Linked DNA regions of Homo sapiens: all the other regions are linked to region 1. The links come from fine-mapping of genetic effects on gene expression. A gene starts in region 1. Each other region holds a variant in brackets. All regions are shown on one strand. Distances are between the middles of the regions. Region 1 holds the start of NNT (nicotinamide nucleotide transhydrogenase). Region 2 has its middle 190 kb from the start of NNT-AS1. Region 3 overlaps CCL28 (C-C motif chemokine ligand 28). Region 4 overlaps C5orf34 (chromosome 5 open reading frame 34). Region 5 overlaps TMEM267 (transmembrane protein 267). Region 6 overlaps NNT (nicotinamide nucleotide transhydrogenase). Region 7 has its middle 220 kb from the start of NNT-AS1.

What was found. PIP is the estimated chance that this variant, and not a neighbour inherited with it, causes the effect.
Region 2: its variant is fine-mapped to the expression of NNT in whole blood (INTERVAL, PIP above 0.99).
Region 3: its variant is fine-mapped to the expression of NNT in whole blood (TOPMed, PIP above 0.99).
Region 4: its variant is fine-mapped to the expression of NNT in whole blood (INTERVAL, PIP above 0.99). The same link has a PIP of 0.9 or more in monocytes.
Region 5: its variant is fine-mapped to the expression of NNT in blood mononuclear cells (TOPMed, PIP above 0.99).
Region 6: its variant is fine-mapped to the expression of NNT in whole blood (TOPMed, PIP above 0.99).
Region 7: its variant is fine-mapped to the expression of NNT in lung (TOPMed, PIP 0.99).

Annotation. Positions count from the first base shown.
Region 1 is chr5:43,601,619-43,605,618 of GRCh38, reverse strand. It overlaps NNT (nicotinamide nucleotide transhydrogenase), which reads right to left and starts at 2,439. Exons shown (of 22, transcript NM_182977.3): 1 at 2,325-2,439. It overlaps NNT-AS1 (NNT antisense RNA 1), which reads left to right and starts at 2,389. Exons shown (of 3, transcript NR_073113.1): 1 at 2,389-2,841. RefSeq lists silencers at 2,179-2,398, 2,519-2,608, 2,872-3,091.
Region 2 is chr5:43,792,855-43,796,949 of GRCh38, reverse strand. No RefSeq gene overlaps it. Among named protein-coding and RNA genes, the nearest start is that of NNT-AS1, 190 kb to the right of the region's middle. The variant G/A (reference allele first, on the strand shown) is at 2,087.
Region 3 is chr5:43,396,672-43,400,766 of GRCh38, reverse strand. All of the region lies in intron 1 of CCL28 (C-C motif chemokine ligand 28), which reads left to right. Among named protein-coding and RNA genes, the nearest start is that of CCL28, 14 kb to the left of the region's middle. RefSeq lists silencers at 3,449-3,538, 3,589-3,648. The variant T/C (reference allele first, on the strand shown) is at 2,150.
Region 4 is chr5:43,494,794-43,498,888 of GRCh38, reverse strand. The region is part of intron 6 of C5orf34 (chromosome 5 open reading frame 34); the gene reads left to right. All of the region lies in intron 2 of C5orf34-AS1 (C5orf34 antisense RNA 1), which reads right to left. It also overlaps the pseudogene EEF1A1P19. Among named protein-coding and RNA genes, the nearest start is that of C5orf34-AS1, 13 kb to the right of the region's middle. The variant AT/T (reference allele first, on the strand shown) is at 2,306.
Region 5 is chr5:43,471,013-43,475,107 of GRCh38, reverse strand. All of the region lies in intron 1 of TMEM267 (transmembrane protein 267), which reads left to right. Among named protein-coding and RNA genes, the nearest start is that of TMEM267, 11 kb to the left of the region's middle. The variant T/C (reference allele first, on the strand shown) is at 2,242.
Region 6 is chr5:43,657,170-43,661,169 of GRCh38, reverse strand. NNT (nicotinamide nucleotide transhydrogenase) reads right to left here. Exons shown (of 22, transcript NM_182977.3): 17 at 1,820-1,999. Among named protein-coding and RNA genes, the nearest start is that of NNT-AS1, 56 kb to the right of the region's middle. The variant T/C (reference allele first, on the strand shown) is at 1,701.
Region 7 is chr5:43,822,597-43,826,691 of GRCh38, reverse strand. No RefSeq gene overlaps it. Among named protein-coding and RNA genes, the nearest start is that of NNT-AS1, 220 kb to the right of the region's middle. The variant G/A (reference allele first, on the strand shown) is at 2,277.

The sequences.
Region 1 (4,000 bases):
GTTCCTGTGGCTTTGAAGCAATAAGAAAAAAACTTTATAACTCAAAATTAGGGGAAAAAAGCACAACTTTTTTTTTTTTTTTTTTTTTTTTTTTTTGAGACGGAGTCTCGCTCTGTCGCCCAGGCCGGACTGCGGACTGCAGTGGCGCAATCTCGGCTCACTGCAAGCTCCGCTTCCCGGGTTCACGCCATTCTCCTGCCTCAGCCTCCCGAGTAGCTGGGACTACAGGCGCCCGCCACCGCGCCCGGCTAATTTTTTGTATTTTTAGTAGAGACGGGGTTTCACCTTGTTAGCCAGGATGGTCTCGATCTCCTGACCTCATGATCCACCCGCCTCGGCCTCCCAAAGTGCTGGGATTACAGGCGTGAGCCACCGCGCCCGGCCCAAAAGCACAACTTTTTAAGCATTGCTTTCATATGTATGTTTAATGTAACTTATATGGGTTATTTCCCCTATTAGATATTAAAATCCTTGAGGGAAAGCACCCAACCTAAAGAGGGAGGATACCACAGATATTTAAGAGAGTCAGCTCTGGATCTGCGGATTGGAAGCCCCACTCTGCAACTTATTGGCTGTGTGACCTTGGGAAGTCACTTAACTTCCCTGTACTTAATTTCCTCATCTTTAAAATGGGGAATAATAGCACCCACCCAGGGTGGTGGCTCACGCCTATAATGCCATCTCTTTGGGAGGCTAGTGGGGAGGACTGCTTGAGGCCAAGAATTCAAGACTAGCCTGGCCAACACAGTGAGACCCCCATTGCTAAAAAAAAAAAATTAATTAGCAGGGCATGGTGGTGCAAGCCTGAAGTCCCAGCTACTTGGGAGTCTGAGGTGGGAGAATCACTTGAGCCCAGGAGTTCCAGGCTGCAGTAAGCCGTGATTGTGCCACTGTACTCCAGCTTGGACAACAGAGCGAGACTTGAAAAAATAAAATAACAGCACCTACCTCTCAGGGTTGTTGCCAGGACTGAGAATATCCTTATCAGCTGTTATATTCACTTTGGTATTACTCTCCCCCAGTGCTTTGCACAACACAGAGGAAGTCAGTATTTTTGACTGAATGAATAGGGCTAGGTGACCTTAAGCCTAAGTACCTATTGAGCACATTTTCCAAGGATTTTCGGAAAATTTCCTTTGAAAAGGAAATGTTTGTGTAGCCTTGTGGAAAACTGATTCTATCACCAAGGTAAGCAGCCTAAGCGCACCTGCTGGAAAGAAGGCAATCCTAAACTGTCTGTTAATAAAAAGTCAAGGTTTACAAATAAAAGGGGTGCAATGAAGAAAAGGGGCACACTTTAAATAAGAAGAGTAGGTAGGCACCTAAGCCCCACGCGCTTCTCCGAATAAGTCTGTCCTACAAGACTCCTGACAAACAGACCACCTAAGGACTGGCCGGCGCCACAGGGTGAATAAAGGACACCGGCAACCATAAACAAGTCACGCTTTTAAAAGCGAGACATACCAGCAAGGACACAATACCCTACTGAGCCAGCTTCGGCTGGCAGGCGCCGTGACCTCACCCAAAGCCACTGGTGTCACGGCTACTGCCACCGGTGCCGTCCCTTGCTCGGCAACTAACTGCCACCCGCTGGCATCTGCACGAGACCGCTATTTATAACCTCCCTAGGAAGCCGATTGGCCACGGCTGCAAATAGTCATTCCGGCTGTTGAGTTTGAACTAGCTCTGCCCAGGTCGCCCTCTCCGCTGTCTCTTCCTCCTCACCAGCCTAGGCCCCAGAAACTTGTACCCACCACCGCCAGACCGCCCCAACTCACACTCACAATTTGTGCTCGCAATCTCCTATGTCCCCAGCCGGACACCCTCTCCGAACTCCCTCAAGGGTCAAGCATACCTCAAGGGCATCCAGCTGCCACCTCTCTGGATGAACCGCCCATCGAAAGTCCTCTATGACCTCCCTCTCCACCACCCCCGATCTTGAGGGCCGAAATGACCCCGTACGACTCTCGCTGTCCCCCAAAGCTGCAAATATCTGCACCTGCACAGCTGCCGCCTCATTCCCTGCCCTCTTCGGGGACCCAGTTCCCAAATCCACCAGCCCACTCCCTTCGACATCGCCCCAGCAGGAGACGAGAAAGGGACACCAAGAGGCACGGTGCTTCTTCCCCACCTAAGCCTGCGGCCTGCGGACACCCCAATGCACCCTGCGCCCGGGACACCGCCGACCCCGCCCCGCTTTGCTCTTTGACAGGTCTCTCTCCCGGCGAGGGCCGTGGTCTTCAGGAAAGGCCCGAGCCCCTTTCCCAGCTGCGCCCTAGGCGCGCGCCCCGGCTGCCCGCACCCGCCAGTGCCGTCGCGCTCACCTGGGCCGGGAGGCTGACAGCCTTGGGCTGTGCCCTGAGGGCCGCGAGAGGACGTCGCGCTGGCAGACCCGGGCTTGGGCCCCGCGGCGCTGCGCCTCCAACCCGGAAGAACAGCCCCAACTCCGCGGCGGCGGGCGGCCACGTGACTGCAGCTCCGCTCCCACCTCGGCCCGCGCCCCTTCCCCGCCCCAGCTTTCTTCCCGCCAGGCCCCCTCCACCCGATCGCCGCGCGCTCTCCGAACCAAAAGGCGACCTCACGAAATGCCCCTTTGAGCTCAAAGGCTAGTTACCCCCAGGGGCCCTTCCACTCTCGGGGACAGGCGAAACCTCTTTGTCTCTGCCTCGGCCTGCGGCCCCCAGCCCAGCCTCCGCGCTTTCCCTCCGCCAGTCCTTGTCAATCAAACCTGGTGCCAAACGCGGCAGCTGAAGTTTTCAGGGACACATTTGCTTCTCCCCTTGAAGAACCAGTTACAAAGCGTGATGTCCTCTCTGGGGTCCCATCAGAACAAAGAAACAGGTAATATAACTCCACTCCGGGTACCTGCCTTTCCTCCAGCTCGCTAGGAAAAATCAGAACTTCTGTAACAGAGAGGACCCAAGGGAAAGGGGCAGGCGGAGAGGGGTTGGTGAAGGGCGGGAATGGGGGGCGTTGATTTTCCATTCTGGCAGGAGAGGTGGAGTTAAATTCCTCAGAAACGATGTCCAGGCTTGAAAAGTAACACACATCTGCGTGCTTGTCTTCCAACATCAGAGCCAGCCTAGAGGAAGCTGGCTAGTGTCACTGCTAGTACGAATATCCCCGAGGCTGGAAAGCATCTGGGTGGAGGTTGTGAGCTTTCCAGACCAGGCCTCGGCTGTTTTTCTAAAACTATTAACCGTAATGACCTAGTCGTTCTTTTCACACAGTTCTGTTACTTATTCTGCAGGTGTATTCTGACTAAAAGTGGGAGGAATAAAAAATAGAGTGTAAAATGGTTCACTTGCCCAAAACTTAATCATCATGAAGTGTCAGTAACGTCATTTATTTCTATTAATTGAAATTTTGATACAAGAAAAATAATTATGAATCTAAAAGGTATAAGCAGAACAGGTATTCCATAACTTTAAAAAGAAATGAGCCGCAGGGAAACCCTTAGTTTGAGAACTTGTCTTGTGATTAACCTACACAGAAGGTCATTCAACTAATGGATTCCCACTGCAGTCCAAACTCACAGACAGGAAATGACACAGCCCCATGTTTTAAAATAATAATGAGCCGTGGTAAGTGTGACCATAGGGACGGTTTCCAGATACTGAAGGTACAATGAAGTGAGATTAGTAATGATCCCACTTAGTAAGGATTTTAAACTAAGTTATTGATTTAAAACTTTTTGTAGGGGTCAGGAGTTGCTGCTTTGTCTTTTAGGGATTAATAATTCGTGGTTCCCAACTGGGGACAATTTAGTTCCGAGGGATATTTGGCAATGTCTAGAGACATTTTGGTTGTCACAATTGGAGAGGGGACCTATCTAATGGGTTGGGGCCAGGGATATTACTGAACACCTCACACTACACAGCCCCTCACGACGAAGCATTATCCAGCCCCAAATGTCAATAGTGCTGAGGCTGAAAAATCCTGGCTTAAATTAATGCTCAGTACATTATTTAATTTTGACTTGCTTATAAATTTATATCAC
Region 2 (4,095 bases), 190 kb before region 1:
GCCACTGGTTGATGGGGTTGTTTGCTTTTTTCTTGTAAACTTGTTTGAGTTCATTGTAGATTCTGGATATTAGCCCTTTGTCAGATGAGTAGATTGCAAAAATTTTCTCCCATTCTGTAGGTTAACTGTTCACTGTGATGGTAGTTTCTTTTTCTCTGCAGAAGCTCTTTAGTTTGATGAGATCCCATTTGTCAATTTTGGCTTTTGTTGCCATTGCTTTTGGTATTTTAGACATGAAGTCCTTGCCCATGTCTATGTCCTGAATGGTATTGCCTAGGTTTTCTTCTAGGGTTTTTATGGTTTTACATCTAACATTTAAGTCTTTAATCCATCTTGAATTAATTTTTGTATAAGGTGTAACGAAGGGATCCAGCTTTAGCTTTCTACATATGGCTAGCCAGTTTTCCCAGCACCATTTATTAAATAGGGAATCCTTTCCCCATTTCTTGTTTTTGTCAGGTTTGTCAAAGATCAGATATTTGTAGATATGCGGCATTATTTCTGAGGGCTTTGTTCTGTTCCATTGGTCTATATCTCTGTTTTGGTACCAGTACCATGCTGTTTTGGTTACTGTAGCCTTGTAGTATAGTTTGAAGTCAGGTAGCGTGATGCCTCTAGCTTTGTTCTTTCGGCTTAGGATTGACTTGGCAATGTGGGCTCTTTTTTGGTTCCATATGAACTTTAAAGTAGTTTTTTCCAATTCTGTGAAGAAAGTCATTGGTAGCTTGATGGGGATGGCATTGAATCTATAAATTACCTTGGACAGTATGGCCATTTTCACGATATTGATTCTTCCTACCCATGAGCATGGAATGTTCTTCCATTTGTTTGTAACCTCTTTTTTTCATTGAGCAGTGGTTTGTAGTTCTCTGTGAAGAGACCCTTCATGTCCCTTGTAAGTTGGATTCCTAGGTATTTTATTCTCTTTGAAGCAATTGTGAATGGGAGTTCACTCATGATTTGGCTCTCTGTTTGTTTGTTATTGGTGTATAAGAATGCTTGTGATTTTTGCACATTGATTTTGTGTTCAGAGACTTTGCTGAAGTTGCTTATCAGCTTAAGGAGATTTTGGGCTGAGACGATGGGGTTTTCTAGATATACAATCATGTCATCTGCAAACAGGGACAATTTGACTTCCTCTTTTCCTAATTGAATGCCCTTTATTTCCTTCTCCTGCCTGATTGCCCTGGCCAAAACTTCCAACACTATGTCGAATAGGAGTGGTGAGAGAGGACATCCCTGTCCTGTGGCAGTTTTCAAAGGGAATGCTTCCAGTTTTTGCCCATTCAGTATGATATTGGCTGTGGGATTGTCATAGATAGCTCTTATTATTTTGAGATACATCCCATCAATACCTAATTTATTGAGAGTTTTTAGCATGGAGGGTTGTTGAATTTTGTCAAATGCCTTTTCTGCATCTATTGAGATAATTGCGTGGTTTTTGTTATTGTTTCTGTTTATATGCTGGATTACGTTTCTTGATTTGCGTATGTTGAACCAGCCTTGACTCCCAGAGATGAAGCCCACTTGATCACGGTGGATAAGCTTTTTGATGGGCTGCTGGATTCAGTTTGCCAGTATTTTATTGACGATTTTTGCATCGATGTTCATCAGGGATATTGGTCTAAAATTCTCTTTTTTTGTTGTGTCTCTGCCAGGCTTTGGTATCAGTATGATGCTGGCCTCATAAAATCAGTTAGGGAGGATTCCTTCTTTTTCTATTGATTGGAATAGTTTCAGAAGGAATAGTACCAGCTGCTCCTTGTACCTCTGGTAGAATTTGGCTGTAAATCCATGTGGTCCTGGACTTTTTTGGTTGGTAAGCTATTAATTATTGCCTCAATTTCAGAGCCTGTTATTGTTCTATTCAGGGATTCAGCTTCTTCCTAGTTTAGTCTTGGGAGGGTGTATGCATCAAGGAATTTATCCATTTCTTCTAGGTTTTCTAGTTAACTTGGTTAGAGGTGTTTAAAGCATTCTCTGATGGTAGTTTGTATTTCTGTGGGATTGGTGGTGATATCCCCTTTATCATTTTTTATTGCGTCTATCTGATTCTTCTCTCTTTTCTTCTTTATTAGTCTTGCTA[G/A]CGGTCTATCAATTTTGTTGATCTTTTCAAGAAAACCAGCTAATGGATTCATTGATTTTTTGAAGGGTTTTTTGTGTCTCTATTTCCTTCAGTTCTGCTCTGATATTAGTTATTTCTTGCCTTCTGCTAGCTTTTGAATGTGTTTGCTCTTGCTTCTCTAGTTCTTTTAATTGGGATGTGAGGGTGTCAATTTTAGATCTTTCCTGTTTCTCTTGTGGGCATTTAGTGCTATAAATTTCTCTCACACACTGCTTTAAATGTGTCCCAGAGATTCTGGTATGTTGTGTCTTTGTTCTCATTGGTTTCAGAGAACATCTTTAATTCTGCCTTCATTTTGTTATGTACCCAGTAGTCACTCAGAAGCAGGTTGTTCAGTTTCCATGTAGTTGAGCAGTTTTTGAGTGAGTTTCTTAATCCTGAGTTCTAGTTTGATTGCACTGTGGTCTGAGAGACAGTTTGTTATAATTTCTGTTCTTTTACATTTGCTGAGGAGTGCTTTACTTCCAACAATGAGGTCAATTTTGGAATAAGTGCGATGTGGTGTTGAGAAGAATGCATATTCTGTTGATTTGTGGTGGAGAGTTCTGGAGATGTGTATTAGGTCTGCTTGGTGCAGAGCTGAGTTCAGTTCCTGGATATCCTTGCTAACTTTCTGTCTTGTTGATCTGTCTAATGTTGACAGTGGAGTGTTAAAGTCTCCCATTGTTATGGCGTGGGAGTCTATGTCTCTTTGTAGGTCTCTAAGGACTTGCTTTATGAATCTGCGTGCTCCTGTATTGGGTGCATATATATTTAGGATAGTTAGCTCTTCATGTTGAATTGATCCCTTTACCATTATGTAATGGCCTTCTTTGTCTCTTTTGATCTTTGTTGGTTTAAAGTCTGTTTTATCAGAGACTAGGATTGCAACAACTGCCTTTTTTTGTTTTCCATTTGCATGGTAGATCTTCCTCCATCCCTTTATTTTGAGCCTATGTGTGTCTCTGCACGTGAGATGGGTTTCCTGAATAAAATGGGTCTTGACTCTTTATCCAATTTGCCAGTCTGTGTCTTTTAATTGGAGCATTTAGCCCATTTACATTAAAAGTTAACATTGTTATGTGTGAATTTGATCCTGTCATTATGATGTTAGCTGGTTATTTTGCTCCTTAGTTGATGCAGTTTCTTCCTAGCCTCGATGTTCTTTACAATTTGGCATGATTTTGCAGTGGCTGGTACCATTGTTCCTTTCCATGTTTAGGGCTTCCTTCAGAAGCTCTTTTATGGGAGGCCTGGTGGTGACAAAATCTCTCAGCATTTGCTTCTCTGTAAAGGATTTTATTCTCCTTCACTTATGAAGCTTAGTTTGGCTGGATATGAAATTCTAGGTTGAAAATTCTTTTCCTTAAGAATGTTGAATATTGGCCCCCACTCTCTTCTGGCTTGTAGAGTTTCTACCGAGAGATCAGCTGTTAGTCTGATGGACTTCCCTTTGTGGGTAACCCGACCTTTCTCTCTTGCTGCCCTTAACATTTTTTCTTTCATTTCAACTTTGGTGAATCTGACAATTATGTGTCTTGGAGTTGCTCTTCTCGAGGAGTATCTTTGTGGTGTTCTCTGTATTTCCTGAATTTGAATATTGGCCTGCCTTGCTAGATTGGGGAATTTCTCCTGGATAATATCTTGAAGAGTGTTTTCCAACTTGGTTCCATTCTCCCCATCACTTTCAGGTACACCAATCAGACATAGATTTGGTCTTTTCACATGGTCCCATATTTCTTGGAGGCTTTGTTCATTTCTTTTTATTCTTTTTTCTCTAAACTTCTCTTCTCACTTCATTTCATTCATTTGATCTTCCATCACTGATACCCTTTCTTCCAGTTGATTGAATTGGCTACTGAGGCTTGTGCATTTGTCATAGTTCTCATGCCATGGTTTTCAGCTCCATCAGGTCCTCTAAGGACTTCTCTGCATTGGTTATTCTAGTTAGCCATTCATCTAATTTTTTTTCAAGGTTTTTAACCTCTTTG
Region 3 (4,095 bases), 200 kb after region 1:
CTAGCAGCTAAGTGAATCTTTTATATCATTTTTATCTTTAGTCTGCAAATCCTTTCTCCAATAATTGCATGTGCCTTTCTTTACTCTGTTTCTATTTTGCTGTGTTCTATATATAGTACCAGTGCCTTTCAAATTGCATTTCTAATCAGCTCCCAGGTGATGCCATTGTTGTGGCTCTGGGAGCCACACTTTGAGTAGTGAGATCCTATACAACACATCCAAGTAAGAGGAAGCTGTTCACGTCTCTACAATAGCAAGATCCTTTCCTGAAAACCCAAAATCTGCCAGGCGCAGTGGATCACGCCTGTAATCCAGCACTTGGGGAGACAAAGGTGGGAGGATAGCCTGAGTCCAGGAGTTCGAGACCTGCCTGAGCAATAGAGTGAGACCCCACTCTCCAACAATAACAAAACCCAGAATCTAACTTTTGTATCACAAATTTGATGTGTAGTGCCAACAGTTCTTGAGCACTAAGAGATCTTTACAGCCCTCTAGTGACTAAAACTGTATCATAGACAGAACCAAAACAGGGACTCACATTCCTGGAAAATCATCCATACACTTAATACTGGGAATAATAATGACAATAATCCAAAACTAATAGAAATAACACCAGAATAAGGCCAGGTGCAGTGGCTCATGCCTATAATCCTAGCACTTTGGGAGGCTGAGGTGGGAGGATTGCTTGAGGCTAGGAGTTTGAGACCAGCCTGGGTAACATACAACACCCTGTTTCTGCAAAAAATTTTAAAAATTAGCCAGGCATAGTGGGGTGCACCTGTAGTCCGAGCTACTTGGGCAGCTAAGGCAGGAGGATCACTTGAGCCTGGGCATTCAAGGCTGCGGTGAGCCGTGATCACACCATTGCGCTCCAGCCTGGGCAACAGAACAAGACGGTCTCCCAAAAAAAAAAAAAAGAAAAGAAATAACACCATAATAAGACAAATAGGAATGCTTTTGATCAGATACTAAAAACATCTTTACAATATTACATATAGTGAACAAATGATTTATCATATTGACTGACCCCTTATTACTTCAATGTGCAGGGATGGTACCTATGAAAAGCACTGTGTAATTGTAGATAATTTGGGACATAAGAGCTTGACCAAAAACTGAAAATACTATTCCTAGAAAAAAAGCAAAAATATTTTGGACATTAAAAGCCTTAAAACAAGATAAAAATGAAACACTGATAAGATCGGAGCTTAGTTCAGTCCAAGAAACTTTTTTAGCACTAATACCAGACAATGTGCTATGTGGTGGGGGGTTACAAAGATGCCCTGTGGGAGCTTACAGTCAAAAGACAGTCATATAGACTCTTAATGTCATACATGGTAAAGACTAAGATATAGGAAAGCACAAGGTACTGTGGGACCTCAGATTCAAATGGGGAAATGACAAAATTGGAAGAAAGTAGACAACTGAGAGGTTCAGCAGTCCAGAAGTCAATTAATAAGGTCCTGAACTAAGAGTGGTAACAAGGAGAAAGAGGAGACAGATCTGAAAAGTGTTAAGGAAAATACAATCTACAGGAGTTTGACTGGCCATGGGAGTGCAGAAGATGGAATTACACTTGGATAACAGTACAAAGTGATTAAACGAGATGAGAAAAGGAAAACAGTAGATTTAAAGTGGCAGGAGATGATGTCTTCAGTTGCGGCTCTGTTGAGTTTGGGGTGCCTGTGGGATATCCAAGTGCATATTCAATGGCAGGTGGATACACATCAGAATATTTGGGTAGAGCTAAAAAAACACATTTTGAAGTTACTGACATAGTAAAAATTTTAAACATGAGATGTGGAAAGAAAAGAGCAGTAGGTTAGGGATGGCACTTTCAGAATGCTAACTATTGAGGAGAGGGCAAAGGAGGACGCATTCAAGAGGCAGAGAAAGTAATTTCTCTTCTTTTTTTTTGAGATGGAGTCCCTCTCTGTCGCCCAGGCTGGAGTGCAGTGGCACAATCTCGGCTCACTGCAACCTCCACCTCCCGGGTTCAAGCAATTCTCTGTCTCAGCCTCCTGAGTAACTGGAATTACTGGCGTCTGCCACCATGCCCGGCTAATTTTTTTGTATTTTTAGTAGAGATGGGGTTTCACCATCTTGGCCAGGCTGGTCTTGAACTTCTGACCTCGTGATCCTCCTGCCT[T/C]GGCCTCCCAAAGTGCTGGGATTACAGGCATGAGCCACTGTGCCCAGCTGTAATTTCTCATTATTCAGAATATTAGAAGAGACTAGTAACTAGGAATATGGAAATTTTCAAGGAAGGAATGGGTAAGTGTTAAATACAGCAGAGAGGTCCAATGAGACAATGTTAGAAAAATGTCTGCTCTGCCTGGGCACAAAGTGAGGTCCCATCTCTACAAAAAAATAAAGAAATTAGGTAGGCATGGTGGTGTGCACCGGTGGTCCCAGCAACACGGGAGGCTGAGGCAAGAGGATCACTTGACGCCAGGAGGTGAAGGCTGCAGTTAGCTGTGTTTGTACTACTGCACTCCAGCACTCCAGCTTGGGTGACAGAGCAAGATCTTATCTAAGGAAAAAAAGAAAAAAAAGTCTGCTAATTGCTAATTGTAGGCGCCCTGAGGGCAGGTACTATGACTTATTAATTCTTATATACTCGGTGTCTGTTACAAAGACTGATACAATGCAGGCAGCACCCTATAAATGCTTCTAGAATTTTACTGATGTGACAATCACTTGAATTAGTAAAATAACACACTTCTACGATTCAAAAAGAAACATGTCGGTACTAGATATTGTAGACATTTTTCCCAAGGGAGCTTTTTCTTGACCCAACTCTGCCTAAATTTTTAGTAGAAAAATATTAATAAAGGAAATACAGAAAATACCTTTCCAACAGAAAGAATAAAAAGCAAAGAAAAAGGATTTAAAAACGCAAAAAAAAGAGAGAATAAATGAATACAAACCAAAAGATTAGTGTAGCAATGTCAATAACAGAAAAATATGATTTAAGCAAAAAGTTATAGTAGAAATAGAGGAATCTTAACCGAAAGATAAAAAAGTTCACTTCACAGAAAAGCTATCTCTAGGGCCCAGACTCCTGTGAGGCAAGAGAGATGATCGAGGCGTGAAAATGCAGTCAGATTTTGTTTTTATTTAAAATTGCAGCATTTTACTAATCATAGACTTTTTTGCATTAATTTTTATTTTTAAAAATATTGCATCCAAATATTGCTTATCTTCATTACGGAGTTCTTTTGGCGGTCCCTTAAATTCTGCACCTGAGGCTCGTGCCTCATTTTAATTCTGGCTGTGGACCAGGAGGGTACTTGGGCGTCTGAAAACATAACCCCAAGTGTTGTATCACATAAGTAGACAGAAATGCAAGAAAAAAAAAAACTGGCATAATCCCAATAACAGTGGGAGATTTTAACATACCCGCATCAAAAGCTGGCCGATCAATTAAAAAAAAAAAAACTAGTAAGGGTTAGGGAATGCGTGCACAATACAACGTTTTCTCCTGCAGCTCTGTGAAGGGCAGCCCGCGGTAGGCTAGGCCTGGTCCTGGGCGCCCCAGCCGGCTCCCCCGGGTCCAGGCGTGCGCCTGCGGGCGACGTGCGCGTCTGGGCATCCGGCCGTCACGCGCTGCCTGGGACTCCACCCTACCTACCCTTCGCGTAGTACTTGTTATACTTTGGCAGCTTCTTCACGTCGGTCCTCTCCGCGCGCGGGTAGGAACCGTCCACGGCCTTAAAGAAGCCTCCTCACCAGGTCAGTGGCGCCAAGCAGGTTGCGTACGCGCAGAGGCGGGAAGGGCGGCTGGACGTCGCCCAGGTAAACGACGTCCCGCGCCACCCCTTTCTTGTTGCTGTCGCTCTGCACTTCCCGCGCTCTTCCTTGCTCTCTGCTTCGGCTACCGCCCGCTGTTTTCCACTTCAGTCTCTCCTGGTCCACGGCAGCCACGACTACAGATACCAGTAGCGCGACAGCCTCAAAGCGCCATAACGTCGTGCTTTTCTTTTTTCGTTCTTTCTTTCTTTCTTTCTTTTTTTCTCGTGCTTTGTTTCCTCTGATTTTCCTTTTCCGGGTTTTTAGTTGAACACACGTTTTTTTCGTGTATGTGTTTTAAATAAA
Region 4 (4,095 bases), 110 kb after region 1:
GGGGGAAATGTCCAGAGAAGAAGCCAGATCACTAAGATGGCCAGCTCACAACTGGAGCATGAGTAACCTCACTGCATTTGGGGAACCATTGAATGATTTCAAGTAGGGAAGTGACATCAGATTTTTGTTAGATTATTTCAGAGGAAGATGAACTGGGTGGGGAAGAGGTAAAACTTGAAGCTGTAGAACCAGTCAGAAGACATGTATAGTAGTTCAAGTGAAGGCCAGGCAGTGGTAGGAAAAATGAGAAGGAATATTAAGGAGACAGAATTGATTGCTGACTGGACGCTGAGGATGAGGAAGGAGTTGAAAGGGATGCCAAATTATTAATCAATGAATGGTGGTGCCCGGTACTGTGTGAAACCAAAATTTTTATCAAATCTAAATTTTTTTGATGATGGCTTTTTTTTCTTTTGCGCCTACCATGAGATGTCAATTAAGGATTTGAGATTATTAAAATTCAACTATATCTCAACCCCACCTGCCTAATAGATTATAAGACACTCTTAATTGTAAGATGGATCCAGATTTCAGAGAGGTTAAATTGTGAAAAATGAGCATTTTAGAGTTGATGAAATAGGGTCTTGGAAATAAGAACCCAGAGGGAACTCAATATCCAGTAGAGAAAGACATAAATAATTAAAATATGGTATTTTGAGTGCTTCCCATGTGCTAAGCACTGTGCTAATAAATGATAATGATACAGACATGAGCAAAACAGACACAGCCCCTTCCTTCATGGAGCTGCATTCTAACAGGGAAAACAGACATTAAGTAAAAAACTATTAAATTGAAGTTGTAATTAAGACCAAGAGGCAGGATTAGAGGGAACTGTGCTTGTGGACATAACTAGGGGATTTCTCCTAGTCTATGAGACCTCTGCAATGGCTTCCCTGAGACGGAAGGAAAAACAGGTGTTAGCTAGGCAAAGGGAGGTGCTGGAGGAGGGAACTGAGTTCTAGGTAGAGGGAACAACGTGATAAATGACATACCAAAGGTAAATACAGCGTAGAGAAAGTGAAAGTGCAAATTTTGAAATGACGCTAATTCCAGTTTTAACATGGTGATGTTGAGGTGTCTGTTTTCATAGCCAAAAGAGAAGCCCAATAGAGATTTAGATAGTCAGGTCTGTAGACCAAGATAAAAGGACAAAGACTTTTGTTTGGTACCTATTATATGCTAAATTCTGTCCCAGGAACTTCATATGTATATTATATCATTAATCCTCAGATAAGTCTGGATGGTAGGCAGTATCCCCATTTCACAGGCTGCAGGCACTGAGGCTTACAAAAGGTTGTATAGCCTGCCCATCATTATAGTTGGTAAGAGGCAGACTTGTGATTTGAATCCACATCTGTCTGACTTTGAAGCCCCTCTTCTTCCCCTAATGGTAAAGAGTATGAGCTGCACTCTCTTGGTGGTTTAAATCAGATCTCTACTGTTTCTTAGCCCTCAGTCTCAGTTTTCTCATCTGAAGAACAAGCATTAATAGTTATCTCAGAATTATTTTGAGGAATAAATGAGATAATCCATGTAAAGTGAGTAGGATAGTGCCTAGCGCATAGTATCTGCTCCACAAATGTTAGCTGTTGCTATTATGATATTTAATGTGAACACAGCTTTGGACCCTTTTAGTATTATCTAAAAAGAAATCAAGAAGTCAGAAGAGAAGGCTGGAGACAGAGTGCTGGGAAACACTAGCAAGTCTGAGGAGGAGGAAACTCAGAAAGAATTTTAAAATAACAATTTTTTTCAAATTTCAGTAACCTCCGCCTGTAAATAATTTTTTCTTCCACAAACTGTAGCAGTATTTCTTCCATTAATGTAGCAAAATGGTATATTCATTCAATTAAAATAGTTTTTTTAAATCTATATATCCATGTCTTTTTGTCTTAAGGGAAAGGGGTGGCTCATGATAAATTTCCTGCTAATGTGTAGGAAAATTAGTTTGGTTACCATGTTAATGTAAATGTAGCTAATATTTAAATTGCACAATAAGTTATTAGAATGTAACTTTTGGGCCAGGCACAGTGGCTCATGCCTGTAATCTCAGCACTTTGGGATCCCTTGAGCCCAGGAGTTTGAGACTAGTCTGGGTAATATAGTAAGACCTCGCCTCTACAAAAAAACTTAAAAAATTAGCCCGGTATGGTGGCATGTGCCTGTGGTCCTGGCTACTTGGGAGGCTGAGGTGGGAAGACTCCTTGAGCCACAGAGGCTGCAGTGAGCTGTAATTGCGCCACTGTACTCCAGCCCTGGGCAACAGAGTAAAACCCTGTCTCCAAAAAAAAAAAAAAAAAAAAAA[AT/T]TAAAAAAAACTTTTGAATGAATAGGAGTAATTCTATATTTTTAAAAAATGGGAAAATGGCTTTTTTTTCCCACAATGGGTTTGCCACCAGAACACAGGTGTTGTGAAAACTACCCCTAAAAGCCAAAATGGGAAAGGAAAAGACTCATATCAACATTGTCGTCATTGGACACGTAAATTCGGGCAAGTCCACCACTACTGGCCATCTGACCTACAAATGTGGTGGCATCGACAAAAGAACCATTGAAAAATTTGAGAAGGAGGCTGCTGAGATGGGAAAGGACTCCTTCAAGTATGCCTGGGTCTTGCATAAACTGAAAGCTGAGCGTGAACGTGGTATCACCATTGATATCTCCTTGTGGAAATTTGAGACCAGCAAGTACTATGTGACTATCATTGATGCCCCAGGACTCAGAGACTTCATCAAAAACATGATTACAGGGACATCTCAGGCTGTGCTGTCCTGATGGTTGCTGCTGGTGTTGGCGAATTTGAAACTGGTATCTCCAAGAATGGGCAGACCTGAGAGCATGCCCTTCTGGCTTACACACTGGGTGTGAAACAACTAATTGTTGGTGTTAACAAAATGGATTCCACTGAGCCACCCTACAGCCAGAAGAGAGAAGAGGAAATTGTTAAGGAAGTCAGCACTTACATTAAGAAAATTGGTTACAACCCTGACACAGTAGCATTTGTGCCAATTTCTGGTTGGAATGGTGACAACATGCTGGAGCCGAGTGCTAACATGCCTTGGCTCAAGGGATGGAAAGCCACCCGTAAGGATGGCAGTGCCAGCGGCACCATGCTGCTTGAGGCTCTGGACTGCATCCTACCACCAACTCATCCAACTGACAAGCCCTTGCGCCTGCCTCTCCAGGATGTCTACAAAATTGGTGGTATTGGTACTGTTCCTGTTGGCCGAGTGGAGACTGGTGTTCTCAAACCTGGTGTGGTGGTCACCTTTGCTCCAGTCAACATTACAACAGAAGTAAAATCTGTCGAAATGCACCATGAAGCTTTGAGTGAAGCTCTTCCTGGGGACAATGTGGGCTTCAATGTCAAGAATGTGTCTGTCAAGGATGTTCGTCGTGGCAACGTTGCTGGTGACAGCAAAAATGACCCACCAATGGAAACAGCTGACTTCATTGCTCAGGTAATTATCCTGAACCATCCAGGCCAAATAAGCGCTGGCTATGCCCCTATATTGGATTGCCACGCGGCTCACATTGCATGCAAGTTTGCTGAGCTGAAGGAAAAGATTGATCGCGGTTCTGGTAAAAAGCTGGAAGATGGCCCTAAATTCTTGAAGTCTGGTGATGCTGCCATTGTTGATATGGTTCCTGGCAAGCCCATTGTTGAGAGCTTCTCAGACTATCCACCTTTGGGTCATTTTGCTGTTCGTGATATGAGACAGACAGTTGCGGTGGGTGTCATCAAAGCAGTGGACAAGAAGGCTGCTGGAGGTGGCAAGGTCACGAAGTCTGCCCAGACAGCTCAGAAGGCTAAATGAATATTATCCCTAATACCTGCCACCCAACTCTTAATCAGTGGTGGAAGAATGGTCTCAGAACTGTTTGTTTCAATTGGCCATTTAAGTTTAGTAGTGAAAGACTGGTTAATGATAACAATGCATCGTAAAACCTTCAGAAGGAAAGGAGAATGTTTTGTGGACCACTTTGGTTTTCTTTTTTGCATGTGGTAGTTTTAAGTTATTAGTTTTTAAAATCAGTACTTTTTAATGGAAACAACTTGACCAAAAATTTGTCACAGAATTTTGAGACCTGTTAAA
Region 5 (4,095 bases), 130 kb after region 1:
CTATTGTAAACAGTGCCACAATAAACATACGTGTGCATGAGTCTTTATAGTAGAATGATTTATAACCCTTTGGGTATATACCCAGGAATGGGATTGCTGGATCAAATGGTATTTCTAGTTCTAGATCCTTGAGGAATCGCCACACTGTCTTCCACATTGGTTGAACTAATTTACACTCCCACCAACAGTGTAAAAGCGTTCCTATTTCTCCACATCCTCTCCAGCATCTGTTGTTTCCTGACTTTTTAATGATCGCCATTCTAACTGGCGTGAGATGTGGTTTTGATTTGCATATCTCTAATGACCAGTGATGATGAGCCTTTTTTCATTTTTTTTTTTTTTTTTTTTGAGACAGAGTTTTGCTCTTGTTGCCCGGGCTGGAGTGCAATGGCGTGATCTTGGCTCACCACAACCTCTGCCTGCTGGATTCAAGCAATTCTCCTGCCTCATCCTCCCGAGTAGCCGGGATTACAAGCATGCACCACCACGCTTGGCTAATTTTGTATTTTTAGTAGAGATGGGATTTCTCCGTGTTGGTCAGGCTGGTCTCGAACTCCCGACCTCAGGTGATCCACCTGCCTCAGCCTCCCAAAGTGCTGGGATTACAGGCGTGAGCACCACGCCTGGCAAATGTCTTCTTTTGAGAAGTGTCTGTTCATATCCTTCACCCACTTTTTGATGGGGTTGTTTGCTTTTTTCTTGTAAATTGGTTTCTCTGTAGATTCTGGATATTAGCCCTTTTTCAGTTGGATAGATTGCAAAAAATTTTCTCCCAGTCTGTAGGTGGCCTGTTCGCTCTGATGATCGTTTCTTTTGCTGTGTAGAAGCTCTTTCGTTTAATTAGATCTCATTTGTCTATTTTGGCTTTTGTTGCCATTGCTTTTGGTAACAAAAGACGAAGTCTTTGCCCATGCCTGTGTCCTAAATTGCCTAGGTTTTCTTCTTGGGTTTTTATGGTTTTAGGTCTTACGTTTAAGTCTTTAATCCATCTTGAGTTAATTTTTGTATAAGGTGTAAGGAAGGGATCCAGTTTCAGCTTTCTGCATATGGCTAGCCAGTTTTCCCAACACCATTTATTAACTAGGAATTCCTTTCCCCATTGCTTTTTTTTGTCAGATTTGTCAAAGATCAGATGGTTGTAGATGTGTGGTGTTATTTCTCAGGCCTCTGTTCTGTTCCATTGATCTATATATCTGTTTTGGTACCAGTACCATGCTGTTTTTGTTACTGTAGCCTTGTAGTATAGATTGAAGTCAGGTCACGTGATGCCTCCACCTTTGTTCCTTTTGCTTAGGATTGTCTTGGCTATTTATGCATGCTGTTTTTTGGTTCCATGTGAAATTTAAAGTTGTTTTTTCCAATTTTGTGAAGGAAGTCAATGGTAGCTTGATGAGGATAGCATTGAATCTGTAAATTACTTTGGGCAGTATGGCCATTTTCATGATATTCATTCTTCCTATCCATGAGCATGGAATGTTTTTCCATTTGTTTGTGTCCTCTCTTATTTCCTTGATCAGTGAGTGGTTTGTAGCTCTCCTTGAAGAGGTCCTTCATATCCCTTGTAAGTTGTATTCCTAGGTATTTTATTCTCCTTGTAGCAATTGTGAATGGGAGTTCACTCATGATTTGGCTCTCTGTTTGTCTGTTATTGGTGTATAGGAATGCTTGTGATTTTTGCGCATTGATTTTGTATCCTGAGACTTTGCTGAAGTTGCTTATCAGCTTAAGGAGATTTTGGGCTGAGACGATGGGGTTTTCTAATTATACAATCATGTCATCTGCAAACAGAGACAATTTGACTTCCTCTTTCCCTAATTGAATACCCTTTATTTCTTTCTCTTGCCTGATTGCCCTGGCCAGAACTATGTTGAATGTACAATTAAGTTATTATTCACTGTAGTTACCCTGTTGTGCTATCAAGTACTAGGTCTTACTCATTCTTTCTATTTTTTTTTTTTTTTTTTTTTTGTGACACGGAGTCTCGCTCTGTAGTCCAGGCTGGAGTGCAGTGGCGTGATCTCGTCTTGCTGCAACCTCCGCCTCCTGGGTTCGAGTGATTCTCCTGCCTCAGCCTCCTGAGTAGCTGGGATTACAGGTGCACGCCACCACACCCGGCTAATTTTTGTATTTTTTGTAGAGACAGGGTTTCACTGTGGTGATCAGGCTGGTCTTGAACTCCTGACCTTGTGATCCGCCCACTTCGGCCTCCTGAAGTGCTGGGATTACAGGTGTGAGCCACCG[T/C]GCCCGGCCTTCTGTTTTTTTAGTACCCATAAACCATCCCCACCTCCCCCTGCTGACCCCCCACCACCCTTCACAGCCTCTGGTAATGATCCTTCTACTCTCTATGTCCACGAGTTCAATTGTTTTGATATTTAGATCCCACAAATAAGTGAGAATATGTGATATTTGTGTTTCTGTGTCTGGCTTATTTCACTTAGCAAAATGTTCTCCAGTTCCATCCATGTTGTTGCAAATAACTGGATCTCATTCTTTCTTATGGCTGAATAGTAGTCCATTGTGAATATGCACCATATTTTCTTTATCCATTCATATGTTGATAGACCCTTAGGTTGCTTCCACATCTTAGCTATTGTAAACAATGCTGCAACAAACATAGGAGTGTAGATATCTCTTTGATATACTGATTTCCTTTCTTTTCGGTATATACCCAGCAGTGGGATTGCTGGATCATATGGTAGTTCAATTTTTAGTTTTTTGAGGAACGTTCAAATTGTTCTCCATAGTGGCTGTACTAATTTACATTCCCACCAAGAGAGTACAAGGTTTCCCTTTTCTGCACATCCTCTTCATCATTTGTTATTGCCTGTCTTTTGGATATAAGCCATTTTAACTGGGGGAGATGATACCTCATTATAGTTTTGATTTGCATTTCTCTGATGATCAAAAATACTGAGCACCTTTACATATGCCTGTTTGCCATTTCTATGTCTTCATTTGAGAAATGTCTATTCAAATATTTTGCCCATTTTTTATTAGATTATTGTATTTTTTTTCCTATAGAGCAGTTTGAGCACTTACGTATTTTGGTTATTATTCCTTTGTCAGATGGGTAATTTGCAAATATTTTTTCCCGTTCTCTGTGTTTTTTTCTTCACTTTACTGATTGTATCCTTTGTGCAGAAGCATTTTAACCTGATGTGATCCCATTTGTCCATTTTTGTTTTGGTTACCTGTGCTTGAGGGATATTGGTCAAGAAATTTTTGCCCACATCAATGTCGTGGAGATTTTCCCCAATGTTTTCTTGTAGTAGTTTAATAGTTTGAAGTATAGATTTAAGTTTTTAATCCATTTTGATTTGATTTTTGTATATGGTGTGAGATAGGGGTCTACTTTCATTCTTCTGCATATAGATATCTAGTTTTCCCATTACCATTTGTTGAATAGACTGTCTTTTCCCCAGTGTATGTTCTTGGCACCTTTGTCAAAAATTAGTTCGCTATAGGTGTGCAGATTTGTTTCTTGGTACTCTTTTCTGTTTCATTGGCTGATGTGTCTGTTTTTATGTCAGAACCATGCTGTTTTGGTTACTATAGCTCTGTAGTATAATTTGAAATCAGGTAATGTGATTCTTCCAGTTTTGTTCTTTTTGCTTAGGATAGCTTTGGGTATTCTGGGCCTTTTGTGGGTCCATATAAATTTTAGGATTTTTTTTTTTTCTGTTTCTGTGAAGAATGTCATTAGTATTTTGATAGGGATTGCATTGAATCTATAGATTGCTTTGGGTATTATGGACATTTTAACAATATTGATTCCTCCAGTCCATGAACATGGATAATTTTTCAATTTTTTGGTGTCCTCTTCAATTTCTTTCTTCACTGTTTTATACTTTCCATTATAGAAATCTTTCACTTCTTTGGTTAATTCCTAGGTATTTAATTTTATGTGTGGCTATTATAAGTGGAATTACTTTAAAAATTTCTGTTTCACATTGTTCAATATTGTCATATTGAAATGCTAGTGACTTTTGTATGTTGCTTTTGTATCCTGCAACTTTACTGAAGTTGTTTATCTTCTCTCTTTTATCTTCCCTCTTTTTTTCTTAGTCTGGCTAAAGTTTTGCCAATTTTGTTTAA
Region 6 (4,000 bases), 56 kb before region 1:
CTTCACCTTTCCAAATTCCCCAGGTAATTTAGGCTATTTAATTTTAAAACCCCTTAGCTTGTTTTGAATTTGGGCTATCAAATCCTTTGTTTTGCAATATAGCCTAAGAAACAAAAATATTTTTTACTATGAAAAGATACTTCAGCCTTCCAAATTACAATGAGATTTTCAGTTAAATCATAAGAAAAATCCTGAGTTGTAAAATAAGCGAGTTTTTTAAAATATTATAATAAAAGAATGAAGGTAGAGTAAGTATCTGATATGGTTTGGCTCTGAGTCCCTACCCAAATCTCATGTCGAATTGTAATCCCCACATGCCACGGGGGGACCTGGTGGAAGGTGATGGATTATGGGGGCTGACTTCCGCCTTGCTGTTCTTATGCTAGTGAGTTCTCACGAGATCTGGTGCTTTAAAAGTGTGTGGCACATCCCCCTTCACTCTCTCCCCTTCTCCGCTATGGTAAGATGTGCTTGCTTCCCATTCACCTTCTGCCATGATTGTAAGCTTCCTGTGGCCTCACAGTCATGCTTCCTGTTAAGCCTGTGGAGCTGTGAGTCAATTAAACCTCTTTACTTCATAAATTACCCAGTCTGAGGTAGTTCTTTACAGCAGTGTGAGAATGGACTAATACAGATCCCTTTCTTGTCTAAATTATTTATCAGTGTAAAATCACGTTCTGCTTTCATTTAGTTTCATTATTATTTAGAAAATAACATCCATAATTTGAAAAAAAAAGTTCTACTCAAACCTTTAATTATAATATTTGCAGAACATCTTCTTGCCATCAAGAAGAGAACTTGAAACAAACAGAAAAGCTAGGAAGTATTAGTGTTGTTACTTTTTTCTGTTCTTTTAAAAAACCATCATGCTGACCACAAAACTTCTAAGGTAGAAACTCTCACAGATGACCAACAGGAGTGTAAATTAGAACAACCTTTCCAGAAACATGGCTATAAGTATAATGAGCCTATAAATTCTAGGAATCTATCTTAAGACAAAAATCTGAAATGTCAAAGATATGTACAAAGAGAAATCAAAATCAAACAACTTCATATGTATAGCATTAAGGGCAAATTAAATAAATTTTGTATATCCATATGATGGATCACGATAAAGTCTCTTAAAATAATATTTTAAAAGAATTTTTAATGACAAAAAGTCAACAATATAGTATATAAGTTTTTTTAAATGTAGGACAATATACAACACGATCAGACAAGTAAATACACAGATATGCCATACATAAGGAAATAAACCAAAATCTTACCTGTTTATCTCCAGATGGAGAGAGGCACTAGAAGATTTTCATCTTTCTATTTAATTTTCCTAATTATTTACAGTTGGGTACCTTAAAGGCAGTCTTGGAAATTTATGCAAATGAAATACTCTGCTATGTCTGCTGAAGAGAATTCAAAGCTACCATACTCTTTTTTTTTTCTTTTGAGATGGAGTCTCGCTATGTCACCCAGGCTGGAGTACAGTGGCATGATCTCAGTCACTGCAACCTCTGCCTCCTGGGTTCAAGCAATTCTCTGCCTCAGCCTACCAAGTAGCTGGGATTACAGGCACCCACCACCACGCCTGGCTAATTTTTGTATTTTTAGTAGAGACAGGGTTTTACTATCTTGGGCAGGCTGGTCTTGAACTCCTGAGCTCGTGATCCACCTGCCTTGGCCTCCTAAAGTGCTGGGATTACAGG[T/C]GTGAGCTACCATGCCCAGCCTACAATATTCATTTTTATGGGTAATAAAAGAAATGACATGCACATCCATGTTTTCAGGAAGCCATTTCCTTTTGTTTCATGTATGTGTTGTTTCTTACCACACACATGATGTATGACAGGATAGCACCAGACGAGCCTATGAGTGCACCCACGATGGTCAGCAGATTGTTGTTGAGCAGGAAGCCCTCTGCACACAGGGCCCAGCCTGAGTAGCTGTTCAGCACAGTGATAACGACGGGCATGTCAGCACCCCCAATAGCAGCTGTCAAAGTCACACCCTAGAACAACAATCAAATCAGAACTCAAAATTAATAACATAAAAATAAAACCTCTGACATTTAACATTTTGCTCCTTAATTATTCTAGTTTTCCCATTAATATATTTACATATAAGTTCCACTTCCGGTAATAAGTGTCTCCCATCTGACCAACACTTCCACAGGTATAACAACTATAAACACTGAGCCACCCACCCCCCTAAAAAAAAATCCCTACATTTTAAAAAAACACTTTTCAGTGATGAAAAGCAGGCAGAAACTGGAGAAGCGTCTACATTTGGAAAAATACAATGACACTAAGTGAATTTCCCAGTTTTTATGGCTTTAGACTGAGGGCAATCCCCTGTTGGTACCAGTTAAGGAAATTATAAAATATAAGCCCACAGTCTTACTGACTTGAAGATCCTGAAGATAGCATTTGAGATGACTAAGGCAGCTGGAAAGTAATAAGGGGAATCCCACAAAGAAGCAGGCTAGAGGGAAGGAGTCCCAGTTTCTGTTTATAAATTCTACTCAAATCTCTGGATGACTCTTGAACTACACATATGTGAGACAGACTCCAAGCAATCCTGTTAAGGATAAAATAACAATAGATTTCAGCTGCCCCCCACCACCCACCATAAGGGAGTCAAAATTTGGAATTTGAGTTTAGCCAAGTTAGCTGGCTACAAAAACACATAAATAAATAATAATAATCAATACCCTTTGAAGGAATATAACATAACATCCAAAATGTCTATAATGTATCATTAACAATGTCCGTGATACAACTCGAAATTACTAAACACATGAAAGGAAAAAGCTTTTTGCTTTTTATTTCACATGTTTTTACCTTTTTTTGTTTGTTACAATGAGAGCATATTCATGTATTACTCATTTAAGCCAAAAGCAATAAAATAAATTCAAAAAATACTTTGTCTTAGTCAGACATTCTCATAGAACCAATAAATCCTTTAAATATCATAGTCACTGCTTCCCAAAAACAACAATTCTTAAAGTTTTAGATTTGTATATCTTTTTTTCTTTCTTTTTTTTTGAGACAGAGTCTTGCTTTGTCACCCAGGCTGGAGTGCAATAGCATGATCTCGGCTCACTGCAACCTCCGCCTCCCAGGTTCAAGCGATTCTCCTGCCTCAGTCTCCCGAGCAGCTGGGAATACAGGCGCAGACTACCACACCCGGCTTATTTTTGTATTTTTAGTAGAGACGGGGTTTCACCATGCTGGCCAGGCTAGTCACAAACTCCTGACCTCAGGTGATCCACCCACCTCGGCCTCCCAAAGTGCTGGGATTACAGTCATGAGCCACCTCACCCAATCACATTTGTATATCTTTTATTTTGAGACTTCATCAACCTATTCTGCTTTATTAGATTAAAAATATCAAAATTATTTTTCTTTTGTTTAAAACAAAAACCAGTGCAATAAGCCAGAATAAAATTAGACCATGAGTGTGAATATAAAGATGAGATTTTAATTTACTTTTCAGTGTTCTAAAATTTCTGTGTTAAAATCATGACCTAACTGCCATGATCACACAAAAATAAGTATCATTTTTACACTATAAATTAGGTGTTTCTCAATCAAGGAGCCAGTAAGTATTTCATAAGCAATTGCTATGTGTCTAACTTTGTGTTAGTTACTGTAGATAATTTTTTTAACTTAAATATAAACCTTGTCTACGGATTACACACTGAAAGAACATGAGTAACAGTGAATAACAGTAAATAGCGCTGCATAAAACAGCATCATACATTGATATAAGATGCCAGACTGTCACATAGACAACTAAAAACTACTGTGTGTTTCAATACACTAAATATAAAAATTGCAGAGAAAGAAGAAAGCCAAACCTATCATAAAAGCCTTCACTGAATACTCTCACTGAGCATACAGGGTTTTTTAACTGCATTTCATTTTATACTTATTTGATTTCGTGTCATATCTTCCAATGATGTAAGAGCAACTGGTGGGCAGAGACTATCTTACTTGTATTGTATAAA
Region 7 (4,095 bases), 220 kb before region 1:
AAAGAAAGAAAGAAAGAAAGAAAGAAAGAAAGAAAAGAAAGAAAAGTAAAGAGAGAAAGAAAGAAAGAAAGAAAGAAAGAAAGAAAGAAAGAGAGAAAGAAAGAAAGAAAGAAAAGTAAAGAAAGGAAGAAAGAAAAGCTCAGAACTGGATGGAATCTCAGCTAAATTCTACCACACTTATAAAGAAGAATTAATACCAATCCTCATTAAACTATTCCAAAAAATTGAAGAAGAGGGAACTTTCCATAACTTACTGTATAAGAATAGTGTTACTCTAATATGAAAACCAGAAAAGGACACAGCAAAAAATATAACTATAGGTCAATATCCCTGATGAACATACACATAAAAACCCTCAAGAAAATACTAGCAAACCAATCTAACAGCACATTACCAAAATAGTATACTATTACGAAGTAGGATTTACAGCAGGGATGCAAGTATGGTTCAACATACAAATCAATAAACATAATTTATCTCATCAATAGAATAAAGGACAAAAGCCGTATGATCACCTCGATATATACAGAAAAGGCCTCTGATAAAATTCAACATCCCATCACAATAAAAATTCTCAACACACTAGGAATAGAAAAAGCATACCCAAAATGATAAAGGTCATATATGGCAAACCCACAGCTAACATCATATTGAATGGGGAAGAACTGAAAGCTTTCCTCTGAGATCTGGAACAAGACAAGGATGTCTGCTTTCACCATTCCTACTCAACATATCACTACAAGTTCTAGCCAGAGCAATCAGGCAAGAGAAAGAAATAAAGGGCATCTAAATTAGAAAAGAGGAATTCAAATTGTCCTGTTTTGCTGACGATATGATCTTATCTAGAAAAATCTTAAGACTCCAACAAAAAAACTGCTAGATTTGATAAATAAGTTCATTAAAGTTGTAGGATACAAAATCAATAAAGAATAATCAGTAGTGCTTCTATACACCAATAATGAACTTATTGAGAAAGAAACTAAGAAAGCAATCCTATTTACAATAACTACAAAAAATAAAATACTTAGGAATAAATTTAACCAAGGAGATGAAAGATCTCTACAAGGAAATCTATGAAACACTAAGTAAAGAAACTTAGGAAGATACAAACAAATTGGAAGACATCCCATGTTCAGGAATTAGAAGAATATCATTAAAATGACCATAGTGCTGAAAGTAATCTACATGTTCAATGCCACCTCTATCAAAAATATAAATGTCATTTTTCACAGAATCAGAAAAAAAAAATTCATTCATATGGAACCAAAAAAGGGCCAGAATAGTCCCTCTCCCTCTCCCTCTCCCTCTCCCTCCCCCTCCCCCTCCCCCTACCCTTTGCACGGTCTCCCTCTGATGCCCAGCCGAGGCTGGACTGTACTGCTGCCATCTCGACTCACTGCAACCTCCCTGCCTGATTCTCTTGCCTCAGCCTGCCAAGTGCCTGGGATTGCAGGGGCACACCGCCACACCTGACTGGTTTTCTTTTTTTTGGTGGAGACAGGGTTTTGCTGTGCTGGCCAGGCTGGTCTCCAGCTCCTGACTGCAAGTGATCTGACAGCCTTGGCCTCCCGAGGTGCTGGGATTGCAGACGGAGTCTCGCTCACTCAGTGCTCAATGTTGCCCAGGCTGGAGTGCAGTGGTGTGATCTCGGCTCGCTACAACCTCCACCTCCCAGCCGCCTGCCTTGGCCTCCCAAAGTGCCGAGATTGCAGCCTCTGCCCGGCCGCCACCCCATCTAGGAAGTGAGGAGCGTCTCTGCCTGGCCGCTCATCGTCTGGGATGTGAGGAACCCCTCCGCCCGGCTGCCCAGTCTGGGAAGTGAGGAGTGCCTCTTCCCGGCCGTCATCCCATCTAGGAAGTGAGGAGCGTCTCTGCCCGGCCGCCCATCGTCTGGGATGTGGGGAGCACCTCTGGCCTGCCGCCCCATCTGAGATGTGAAGAGTGCCTCTGCCCGGCCGTGACCCTGTCTGGGAACTGAGGAGTGTCTCTGCCCTGCCACCACCCCGTCTGGGAGGTGAGGAGCGTCTCTGACCAGCCACCCCATCTGGGAAGTGAGGAGCCCCTCTGCCCAGCAGCCGCCCCATCTGGGAAATGAGGAGCATCTCTGCCCAGCAGCTGCCCCATCTGGGAGGTGGGGGGCAGCCCCCGCCCGGCCAGCCGCCCTGTCCGGGAAGTGGGGGGCAGCCCCCGCCCAGCCAGCCACCCCCTCTGGGAGGTGAGGGGTTGCCTCTGCCCGGCTGCCCCATCTGGGAAGTGAGGAGCCCCTCTGCCCGGCC[G/A]CCACCCCATCTGGGAGGTGTACCCAATAGCTCATTGAGAACATGATGACAATGGTGGTTTTGTCGAATAGAAAGGGGGGAAATGTGGGGAAAAGAAAGAGAGATTAGATTGTTACTGTGTCTGTGTAGAAAGAAGTAGACATAGGAGACTCCATTTTGTTCTGTACTAAGAAAAATTCTTCTGCCTTGGGATGCTGTTAATCTATAACCTTACCCCCAACCCCATGCTCTCTGAAACATGTGCTGTGTCCACTAAGGGTTAAATGGATTAAGGGCAGTGCAAGATGTGCTTTGTTAAACAGACGCTTGAAGGCAGCATACTCGTTAAGAGTCATCACCACTCCCTAATCTCAAGTACCCAGGGACACAAACACTGTGGAAGGCGGCAGGGCCCTCTGCCTAGGAAAACCAGAGACCTTTGTTCACATGTTTATCTGCTGAGCTTCCCTCCACTGTTGTCCTATGACCCTGCCAAATCCCCCTCTCCGAGAAACACCCAAGAACGATCAATAAATACTAAAAAAAAAAAAAAAAAAAAAAGAAAGAAAGAAAGAAAAAGAGCCAGAATAGCCAAAACCATTCTGAGCAAAAAGACCACAGCTGAAGGCATCATCTATCTCACTTCAAAATGTATTAGAAAGCTATAATAACAGGATTGTTAAGGATATAAAAACAGACACATAGACCAGTGAAACGGAATAATGACACCAGAATTAAATTCACTTATTTATAGCCAACTGATTTTCAATAAAGGTGCCAAGAACATACACTGGGGAAAGGAAATTCTTCAATAAATAGTTTTGGGAAAATTTGAAATTCACGATATGCATAAGAATAGACTGAACACCTATGTCTCCCCATACACAAAAATCATCTGAAGATGGATTAAAGACTTAAATGTAAGACCTGAAACAATAAAACTGCTAGAAAAAAAAATAAAGAGAAAAAACAAAACATCAGTCTAGGCAAAGATTTCATGGCTAAGACCTCAAAAGCACAGACAACCACAACAAATAGGCAAATAGGATTATATTAAACTAAAAAGCTTCTGCACAGCAAAAGAAACTATCAACAGAGTGAAGATACAACTTACAGAATGAGAGAAAAATATTTGCAAACTATTCATCTGAAAAGGGATTAATATCCAGCATATACAAGAAATTCAAACAACTCCTCCATTTAAAAAGAAATCCCATTAAAAAGTGGGCTAATGATATGAATAGACATTTCTCAAAATAATACATACAAATGGCCAACAGGTATATGAAAAAAATGTTCCACATCACTAATCATCAGAGAAATGCAAATCGAAACCACAATGAGATATTATCCTACCCCAGTTAGAATAGCACTATTAAAAATACTAAAAATAACAGATGCTGGTGAGGTTGTGGAGAAGGAACTCTTATACACTGTTGTGGGGAAGTGAATTAGCACAACCACAATGAAAAACAGTATGGAGGTTCCTCAAAAACCTAAAAATGAAACTACCATATGATTCATTCATCCCACTACTGGGTATATATCCAAAGAAAAAGAAATTATTACGTCAAAGAGACATCTGCATTCCCATGTTTATTGCTGCACTGTTCACAGTAGCCAAGATGTGGAATCAATCTAGGTGTCCAACAACAGATGAATGGACTATTTAGGGGCTTGGAATCATAGGCGGACATGCCCCTAACTTTGCAAGATAGGCAATTTAGTACCATGGAAAGAAAATCAGATGTGGACTCAGGAAACTAAAATTCTTGTCTTTTCTGCCAAAAACTAGCTATACAACTTTAAAGTAAGTTACTTAATTAGTTTTCATACGGGT